Linked DNA regions of Homo sapiens: region 2 is linked to region 1. The links come from fine-mapping of genetic effects on gene expression. A gene starts in region 1. The other region holds a variant in brackets. All regions are shown on one strand. Distances are from middle to middle.

Region 1 (5,379 bases):
GTCTGGTTAATTTTTTGTATTTTTAGTAGAGACAACGTTTCACCATGTTGGCCAGGCTGGTCTCAAATTCCTGACCTCAGGTGATCCTCCCGCCTCGGCCTCCCAAGGTGCTGGGATTACAGGCATGAGTCACTGGGCCTGGTCATAAATTCTGTTTTCTAAGCAAACTTATCTTACATCAGAGGGCAGAATGGTTAGGGAAAATATCTAGTGAAAAAGACCACCAACAAAGGAGCACCATCTCTCAATTGTCACACTAATGTGCAGTGACACTTTGGCAACTGACTCCCAGTTACTGGCATACAGTTTCATCTACCAGTTGGAGCCAAATGGCAGATTTGGGATTTTTCTTAATCCGAGTTATTATTCAGAACAACATATTCAACACAAATATTTAACCACTAGTGTCAGATTTTATTTTTACATGATAACTCCTCAAGCCTTTAACCGCAAGAGTGCATACAAGGTAAAATTAAAAACAAAATTAAGCCTGCTGACTTTCACTGTGATTGTGGTTTGATATCATGCAGGATAGATCACAACTGCTGATTCATATTAGGAAAGAGAGCCCCCAACTGTCACAAGCACATTGTGTTTGAAAATACAAAACCTTACCAAATCACTTAGTACTTAAAATTAACAACATCCTCATCATCTTGTGGTTGAAATGATGACTGAACAATAACTCAAGCTAGTTGTGTTCTATATATTTTTAATTAATATAATTAGTATTCCTAGATCTTTTTAAATTGCTCTACTCTAGCCCTAGGGAAAAATGATTTCAGAAGGCTGAATACGTATGCTGATTCAAGATATGATTTCTCACACACCCAACCTCTATAATTTTGGATTATAGAGCAATATAGAGTAATTCTGGCACCATCTCTTTGGCAATGCTGTTTAAAAACAAAGTTACTATTACACACAGCCCAGGATATTGACTTCGCATTGCACATAAATACATTTATATAATACTTTTTCTTTAATATAGAAGCCATAGCCTTGATTTTTTTGAAAAATGATGAAGAATATGGTAATTATGAGACTCTCAATTGACTCAAAAGTTCAGAGCTAAAATCAAGGTAGAGTTTGAACACACCTTACAAAAAGTTGAGATCCAAATTGCATAAAATTTATGAAACTTTTGATTTAAGGACTAAGTTTTCTGGTAACCTCTTTGGGAACATCAGGATAATAAAAGATGATTAAGTAATAATGGTATCTCGGCCGGGCACGGTGGCTCATACCTGTAATCCTAGCACTTTGGGAGGCCGAAGCAGGAGGATCACAAGGTCAGGAGTTTGAGACCAGCCTGGCCAATATGGTGAAACCCCATCTCTACTAAAAATACAAAAAAATTAGCCAGCTGTGGTGGCGCATTCCTGTAATCCCAGCTACTCGGGAGACTGAGGCAGGAGAATTGCTTGAACTCAGGAAGCCGGAGGTTGCAGTGAGCCGAGATCACGCCACTGCACTCCAGCCTGGGCAACAGAGCGAGACTCTGACCAAAAAAAAAAAAAAAAAAAAAAGAAAGAAAGAAAGAAAGAAAGAAAGATGAAATAACGATATCTGATCAAATTATTTGCCTTGGCCGGATGGGTGCCAGTCCTGGCTATAAAATTCACCATCTGGGAGACCTTGAACAAATTATTTAATTTATCTGATTCAAACTTGCTGTCTATAAAAATGAAAATAACTTTATGTAGTTTCTAACTTAGAACAATAAATTATTAATGATAAATATGAAAATGCTGGGAAGAGTTTCAATCACTACTAATATATATTCATTATCTAGCATTGTCTTCTTCAAATGGATACATTTTAAAAACAGCCTTTAATCATAGAACCACTTTTTTGCATAACTTTAAGCCATAGGGCTAATTATACACGACACAAATCTAACCAACAGAACTGTACTACTTAGATTAAAAGAAACTTGCAGAAATGATAGTTTTGCATAACTTTAAATAAAAGGCTAACTACAGATGACACAGAAATCTTACCAACAAAACTGCATTATTTCAGTTTAAAAGAGACATGAAGAAATGACATTAACAGTCCAAGTCATATATAAAGAAGCCCACACAAAGGGGAACTGAAACGGATAAACGGACTTACTTGGGAGTTTATCTTGAAAAGGAACTAAAACATACATCCCAAATAACCAATGTCTGCAAGATCCAAAAAGACAGAAGAACTCCAATAATGGAAAGGACTCAGTGACACTGAATTACAATGGACAAGTCCAGTAAAATTCAGTTCTTCCTACTATTCCTCCCAACAAAAGCAGAAAACAACCAACACGCACGGTACCGGTTGACTTGTTCTGTGCCACTCAGAGTAGGTGCGTGGAAGAGCAGACAGGAAGCTGGGGCATATTTAATGAATACTGAAAGGGAGGACTGAGGGTTTGGCAAAGTGTTCACGAGACGGACCCTACCTTTCACAGATTTCCCAATACTGTGTAAGTGAGTGACAGAACTGTAGTTTTGGGCAACAGTCTTCAAAAACGCTTCCATCCCTTCCTGGCGGTGGTAGTTGAAATCCAGCGCAGCTACCAAAGGCAGCAACAGCCCTAGCCAGAGGCACGGGAAGTCCATGTTCTAGAGATGAATAAAAATAAGAAGAACCTGAGAACACATGAGGGCAGGCGGGGGCATCACCAGCTACGTCTCGGTACTCCGGTCTCAGGGTCTCCCGACACTGACGCTCCCTGCCTCCTAAGGAGGCAAAAGCTGGAAGCAACACCTTCGGGAGTGAGCCGTGCAACCAGAGACCGGGAGCACGGGCAGCCTCGGTGCCCTCGACCCAGCCGCCCGCGCCTCCCTCTCCTCCTCCTCCTGGCGCCTCCGCCGTCCGGCAGCTGCCACAGCTGCGCCCGGCCCCGCGCACCCCCAGCCTCACCAGGTCCCAGGCGCGCACCTCTACCCACCCGCGGCCGCCCGGCGGGGCCGGGTGTTATAGCCCGGTCAGAGGGCGGGCGCGCCCGGGCCCCGCCCCCGGACGTCCCTCCGGCCCACTCCGGAGCCGCGCGGGTGCCTCCCGGGCGGGGCCTCAGCCGCCTTCGCACCTAGGAGAGACGGCGCCCGCGCGGTGCGCCCTTTCGTGGCGCGGCTGCTGGTGCCCGCGGCCGGGCGGCTGAGCTGGGCGGAGGGCTGCGGGCATGGAGTCGCCGCTCGCGGACAGTCTTTGCTGGAGCCCCAGGTCAGAAGTGTGTCCTCGCCTCGGCCACGGCTGTAGCCTGGGCAGCCACAGGGCGCTCCACCGAGGGACACTCTCTGTCGCAGACTGCAGCCGCTTGGGAGACGTTTAGGGCTCGGCGGGTTTCCTGCGGTTGGCGGTGCCGGGGCCCACCTGGAGCCGGGACGCATGCGGAGTCCTGAGTGCCCTGAGCCCCGCGCGGGCTCCTGCGGGACGGGCGGCGTCGGCCCCGGCAGGGCGAGCCAAGCTCCCAGCAGTGCCAAGCTGCCCAGCGAGGCTAAGCAATCACGGGGCTTCGAGAAAGAACGCGCGCGTGTGTGGAAGTTTTAAATGCCACGAAGTGCAGAGTGCAGGACATTTTCCAACAAGTTTACATAGTGGGTGGGATTTGTGTAAATTAGAATTGAATTTAAAACTGGAAGTCACATCGAAGAAGGCAGGACCACTGTTGTAAATCCGATGCTTCCTCCACCTGCACCTGAGTCTTAGGCCAATTACAGGTCTCTCGTCCTAAAACGTCCTAAAATGCTCCTTTCTGGAAGGATGGCATGGTCTCTGCACGAGAGAGAACGAAGGCTTCACTCAAACCTGAGAGGTGGTTTGTGGCACGGGCCAACCCCCTCTACCTCTCTAAAAGATTCATTCTCATTCATTCTCTCTCTCTCCCCTCCCCCTCTCCCCTTCCCTCTCTCCCCCTTTCTCCCACTCTCTCCCGGATTGTAAGTAACCGTGTCAGGGTATTGGGGGCCCGTGTCAAGGTCCGCAGAATATAAAAAGTTTGAAAACCACTGATTTGAGATAACATTCCACTTTTACAGACTAAAAATACGGATGCAAGCCCACGACTAATTGAATAGAATTTTTCTCGTGGAGGCCCAAGAAAGTGTATTTTTAGAGAGGACCTTGAATGAATCTAATGTGCCTTCAAGAGCTGAGAACCGTTAGATTCCCTGCCCCTTCTTTCTTACAGATATAGATACTTTTCCTAGAATTGCGCACTCAGGACTCCCTGAGACTTCCAGTGATTCTGCCGCAGCATAGAAGAGTGGTTTAAGAACTGAGGCGCTCTGCCCTTGCGATAGTTTGCTGAGAATGATGGTTTCCAGCTTCATCCATGTCCGTACAAAGGACATGAACTCATCCTTTTTTATGGCTGCATAGTATTCCGTGGTGTATATGTGCCACAGTTGTGCACATGTGCCCTAGAACTTAAAGTATATATAAAGAAAAAAAAAGAACTGAGGCGCTCACGGGATGAGTGCCAATTCTTGCTCTGACACTCAGTGGCTGTGTCGACTCTGTGCCTTATTTTCTGGTGTGTAAAGTGGAAGTCTTAATTGTACCTACCTAAATAAGGTTGGCAGGCACATTGTAAGAACTGTGCGAAGCGTTTATTACATAAATAAACCAGCTTAATTCGTAACTCTTTAAAGGGAATTTTCCAAGAGTTGGAATTTTTTTTTTAATTTTTTATTTCTTTCTTTATTTTTTGAGATGGAGTCTCAATTCTGTTGCCCAGTCTGGAGTGCAATGGCATGATCTCGGCTCACTGCAACCTCCTCTCAGGTTCAAGCAATTCTCCTGCCTCAGCCTACCGAGTAGCTCGGATTACAGGCACCTGCCACCAGGCCCGGCTAATTTTTGTATTTTTAGTAGAGACGGGGTTTCACCATGTTGGCCAGGCTGGTCTGGAACTCCCGACCTCGGGCGATCTGCCTGCCTCGGCCTCCCAGATCGCTGGGATTACAGGCGTGAGCCACCGTGCCTGGCCATCTTTTTTTTTTTCTTAAAGAGAAGTTGTTTTATTGTTTGTTTGTTTGTTTGTTTGTTTGTTTGTTTTGAGATACAGTCTCACTCTGTTGCCCAGGCTTGAGTGCAGTGGTGCAATCTCAGCTCACTGCAGCCTCTGCCTTCCAGGTTCAAGCGATTCTTGTGTTTCAGCCTCTAACGTACCTGGGATTACAGGCACGCATCGCCACACCTACGTAACTTTTGTATTTTTACACCACACATGCCTAACTTCTGCATTTTTAATAGAGACCAGGTTTCACCATGTTGGCCAGGCTAGTCTTGAACTCCTGGCCTCAAGTGATCCTTCTGCCTCAGCCTCCCAAAGTGCTGGGATTACATGAGTGAGCCACCTTGCCTGGCCTAAGAGTTGGAAGTCTTAGTATGACA
Region 2 (5,379 bases), 28 kb after region 1:
CCTCAAACCCCTTCCACTCAGTCCCCTCCACCCCCAGCTTTTCTGTCGCAGGAAATGAAACCACCTTACACTGTTACTCAAACCAAAACCCCAGGAGTCTTTGACTCTCCACCCACCCCAACCAATGCAATACATCAGGAAGTTCTGTTAACTCCATCACCAAGATACCTCCTAATGCTGTTTGTGACACCTCCACTGCTGCCATCTTGGTCCGAGATACCATCGTTTCTCTCCTAATCCCCTCCCTGCTTCCTCTCTGGCACCTGTAGTCTAGTTATAGCTCAAATGCCAGAGGGGTGTTTTAAAACATAATCAGAACATGTTCTTTTCACTCCAGGGGCTTCTAGTCACACTCAGAATCAAACCCAAAGCCTCTTCCTTCCTGGCCTCTGAGACGCTATATGAACTATCCCCGCCTGCCTCTCATCCCTTGGTAACACTATGTTATAGCCACACGTGCCCTGAACACACAGATCTGCCTCTCACCCAAGGGCCTTTGCACAAGCTCTGCCCTGTGCCAGACACATTCTTCTCCTAAGTCGTCCCATGTCTGGTTCCTTCTTATTCGGGTTTCAACTTCAATGCCATCCTCTTTGAGAGACCTTTGACCACTTAGATGTAGCCCCCAGTTCCTGCACCCCAGCTGTCATTTCCTTGCACATCTCTGTCTTATCTTCGTCATACCATTTACTATTATTACATATTTTCTCCTTATTTATACATTCCTGCCACCTCAGAATGTGAATGCCATGAGAATAGGGTCCTGGTCATCCCGTTCAGTGTTGCATCCCAGCACCCACAGCAGTCCCTGGCACAGAGTAAGTCTTCAGGATATGTTTGATGATTAAATGAATGAATGAATATCTTTTAGAAAGAGCCAGTCCTCTCCATAGACTGCAACCTAAATGATGAGACTCAGAAGTGTTTCAAAATCCCCATTGCCTAATAAGACATTTCAACTTTTAGATTAATTCCAGTGGCCACTGCCTTAAAATATCATTGTTATTGTAAAAAAAAAAATTACCTAAAGGAGAACAGAGGTCTTGTACTACGCTGTTAATTCTTCAAAACTTAAGACTGAGTTAGTTTTCAAATCATTTTTATCTTAGAAATCAAAGGCAGTTGGACCAAGGACAAATACATTATAATGAAAGTGTGAAAGAGAGAATATGAAAAGTTGGCTGCATGGGGGCATTGCCCAGTCAAGACAGATGTGGGTGAAACATCATGGGCAAGGAGGGGGTTTTCCCACGAGAGGCCAAAATTGGAGAGAGGGTGAAGAGAGGGTTTGCTGGGTGCTTCTCACATGCTAGCATCGTGTTAGTTGCCTTAGGAATAAGGAAGAAGTGAAGCACAAACTCTGGCCCTCAGAACCTTCTGGGAAACCTGATGCTATGGTAATTTCTGGTGAGGATGATCATGTTTAATAAACAAGGCACAAACATTTCAGCTCTGCTATATCCCCAGGCGTCTCTCCCAAAATCAGTTTACTTCTCTACTTTACAAGAAAAATCGGTTAGCTTCAGGGTTTATAAAACTCACTAAAACATACAAATGTAAAACCAAATGTTACCCTGCTGATTTGAAAGGGATTCTGGCATGACTTCTCAGATAAAGATACAAATACATTCTTTGTTCATTTCCATGAACGGCCTTTTTATGGCTTTTGAGACCTAGTCTAAGTCAGTAAAAGTCAGAATTTGTGTTGCTGATAGGTGTTGGCCTTGTAAAACTGGAAAAAAGGAATCACATTTTCTATAACATATGAATGCACAAGTGATTCATTCTTTGGCTCAGGATGGAAACATTTATTTTTGGCACTCTTGATTCTTCTTTCTTCATTAGCTTCACAGATTTTTCTCAATACGATGTCGACGTTGGATGGGCTTCATTCACAAGGAAACACCAAGATAAATGGGGTGACTAACATCCAACTATTTAAAACTTGTAAATATTTATGAGAAAATTATATCCGTCTTTGTGGGGATTTCTCTCTGAAACGTGGATGTAACTATTGAGGGCTCTAGCTTCCCTTTTAAATGGTGGATTCTAGTGTTAGTATTGCAGTGCTCTACAGCAAAATCAGTATGACCATTGTGTATAAAATAGCTACGCTGAATCTTGAATAAAAGGGATAATGCTTCTTTACTTGTACGACCCTTCCCACTGCTGAG[C/T]CTAGAACATCATATTTTGAGATCAGTGACCTAAGTCCTGGACCAGCAAGATAATTCGCAGGGCCCAGTGCAAAAAGGAAATATGGGGCCTTTTGTTAAAATATATATATATTAAAAATGTCAAGATGATAACAGAGAACATCAAACAAGCATGGAGCTCCTCTAAATGTGGCAACCTATGTGACTGTACAGGTCTCAAGCCCAGAAAGCTGACCCTGCACAAGCCCTCATTTGAGACCTTTGCTATGACTTGTTCAGGTGAATTAACGATTCTGCACCTACTTTGTCCTATCTGCAGAACAGGTGAAAAGAGTAACATATTTTCTATTAATCATGATGATTACCTATAACAACTGAGAGTTGATTTTTTAGTATACCAGTCAGGCAGGTAAAAGGCGATGCAACTTAGCATTGGGGACTGTCATCCCCAGTAAAAACTAGGAAATTTGTAAATGTCCACTTACTGGTTGTTACCCAAATAGAATAGACAGGGACAGTGGTCTGAGGATTGAGGTACAAATATCAGAAGGATGAGAAGAGTCATGAGAAAAATAATGAAAATACCTATAGTCTTAAAAAAATTTTTTTTTGAGACAGAGTCTTGCTCTGTCACCCAGGCTGGAGTGCAGTGGTGTGATCTCAGCTCACTGCAACCTCCAGTGAGCTCAAGCGATCCTCCTGCCTTAGCCTCCCAAGTAGCTGGGACTGCAGGCACATGCCCCCATGCCTGGCTAATTTTGTGTTTTTTGTAAAGATGGAGTTTTGCCATGTTGCCCAGGCTGGTCTTGAACTCCTGGGCTCGAGTGGTCCACCTGCCTTGGGTCTCCCAGAGTGCTGGGATTACAGATGCAAGACACAGTGCCCAGCCTAAATTTTTTATTACATATATTTTATTTTAGAGAAGAGGTTTCACCATGTTGCCCAGGTTGACCTTGAACTCCTGGGCTCAAGCAATCTTCCCACCTCAACCTCTGAGTAATCAGGACTACAGGTGTGCAACACTGTGCCTGGCTTATGTATTTTTTATTTTAAAAACAACTGTATAAGTTGAATGAGCCAGGCATGGTGGCTCGCACTTGTAATCCCAGCACTTTGGGAGGCAGAGGCAGGTGGATCACTTGAGGTCAGGAGTTCGAGACCAGCCTGGCCAACAGGGTGAACCCCCATCTCTACTAAATAAACAAACAGACAAACAACAACAAAAAACTCAACAACTGTGTAGGTTGAAAAGCCATCATAAGTCTATTTAAATAAGCAATTAAAAAAATATTTGATTATTTTTAATGTTTAAAGTGTTTCGTGGTCTTTTTAAAATAGGTTTTAAAAAACTGTGGTAATAATGGCCGGGCGTGGTGGCTCATGTCTGTAATCCCAGCACTTTGGGAGGCCAAGGCGGGCGGATCACGAGGTCAGCAGGTCGAGACCATCCTGGCTAACGCGGTGAAACCCTGTCTCCACTGAAAATACAAAAAATTAGCCGGGCACGGTGGTGGGCGCCTGTAGTCTCAGCTACTCAGGAGGCTGAGGCAGGAGAATGGCGTGAACCTGGGAGGCGGAGCTTGCAGTGAGCCAAGATAGCGCCACTGCACTCCAGCCTGGGCGACAGAGCGAGACTCCATCTCAAAAAAAAAAAAAAAAAAACCAAGTGTGATAATACACACATAACACAGAATTTACCATCATAACCATTTTTAAACCTACAGTTCAGTAGTTTTAAGTACATTCACACTGTTGTGTCACTGTTGGGACATGGAAAACAACACCCTAAAATGAAGGCCTCAGAAGCAGCCTGAGAAGCAAAAGGTTTTCTCTGACCTTCTCCTGCTCGCCTCCTGTCTCTCAGTCCCACTCTTCCCCGAGGGCAGCCATAGAAACTAGAATCCCTCTTCCCCACGTGGGTCCTAGAAACCAGAACCCCTTTTCCCGAAAGCCAGCTATAAAACCTAAAAATATTATCAAACTTTTCATCCGCCTTTCTTGTAAACCAAAAATAAAATTCTAAGTACTCCAACCATCTGAACAGACTCCTCCTCTTGGCAAGGGCATCCCAAAGTTAACCTGAAAAACAAGCTCAGGCCATGATGGGAAGGGGGAGCCAGACATGCCTCATTGTACCCTCTTCCTTTTAGAATTGTTGATAGAACAGACTCCTTAAGTCTGATAAGAAACATTTACAATCTGTTCTCTCTGAAGGCTTAACCTGCACGATAAAACCTTCGTCTCCACAATCCTTTATCATAACCCAGACATTCCTTTCTATTGATAATAACTCTTTCAACCAATTGCAAATCAGAAAATCTTTAAATCTCCCTGTGACCTGGAAGTCCCCACTTTGAGTGGTCCCACCTTTCTGGACCAAACCAATGTACATCTTACATGTATTGATTGATGTCTCATGTTTCCCTAAAATGTATAAAACAAAGTCGTGGCCTGACCACCTTAGGCACATAGGCAGGGCCTCTTGAGGCTGTGTCATGGGTGTGTCCTTAACCTTGGCAAAGTAAACTTTCTACATTGATCGGGACCTGTCTCATATACTTTTGGTTTACATTCTGTATAAAAACTGGTCATAAGGAAATGATCGGACCTACCTTGTTTGATTGTAGGTCATAAGACCCCCATTCCAGAAAGGGTCCTGTCCCATACGCAGAAGGAAGAAATGCTGCTCAGAGAGGCCAAGAAGAATCTAGACAGACAGGCCTTGCTGGGTTTCCTCACTCCATCTGTTAAAGTTACATCATACCCTTTTGTCCAGTCATATTTCTAAACAGCTCTACATACTTTTTGAACCTAAGCATAAAAATGTGCACTTTCCTCTGTCTTCATTCTGAAGGTTCCCATGTACACATTAAATGCATTTGTATGTTATTTCTCCTACTAGTCTGCCTTTTGTGAGTTGATTTTTCAGTGAAACTTCATAGGGAGAAGGGGAACTTTTCCCTTGGCCCCTAGATAACTAATCTCCAGAACATTCTCGCCTTGCAAAACTGAACTTCTATGGCTATTACACAACTTCTCATTTCCCCATCCCCCTAGTGCCTGACAACCACCATTCTACTTTCTGTCCCTATAAATTTGACTATTTTAGACACTCCCACCAGTGGAATTTTATAGTATTCATCTTATTGTAACTGGCTTATTTCACTTAGCATAATGTCCACAAGGTTCATGCATAGTATAGCATATGTCAGAATTTCCATCCTTT

What was found.
Region 2: its variant is fine-mapped to the expression of CPM in whole blood (INTERVAL, PIP 0.93).

The regions. Positions count from the first base shown.
Region 1 is chr12:68,930,238-68,935,616 of GRCh38, forward strand. CPM (carboxypeptidase M) reads right to left here and starts at 2,934. Exons shown (of 9, transcript NM_198320.5): 1 at 2,905-2,934; 2 at 2,441-2,603. The coding sequence starts at 2,600. RefSeq lists silencers at 2,814-3,173, 3,204-3,313.
Region 2 is chr12:68,958,404-68,963,782 of GRCh38, forward strand. It overlaps a transcript of CPM not described here. Among named protein-coding and RNA genes, the nearest start is that of CPM, 28 kb to the left of the region's middle. The variant C/T (reference allele first, on the strand shown) is at 2,175.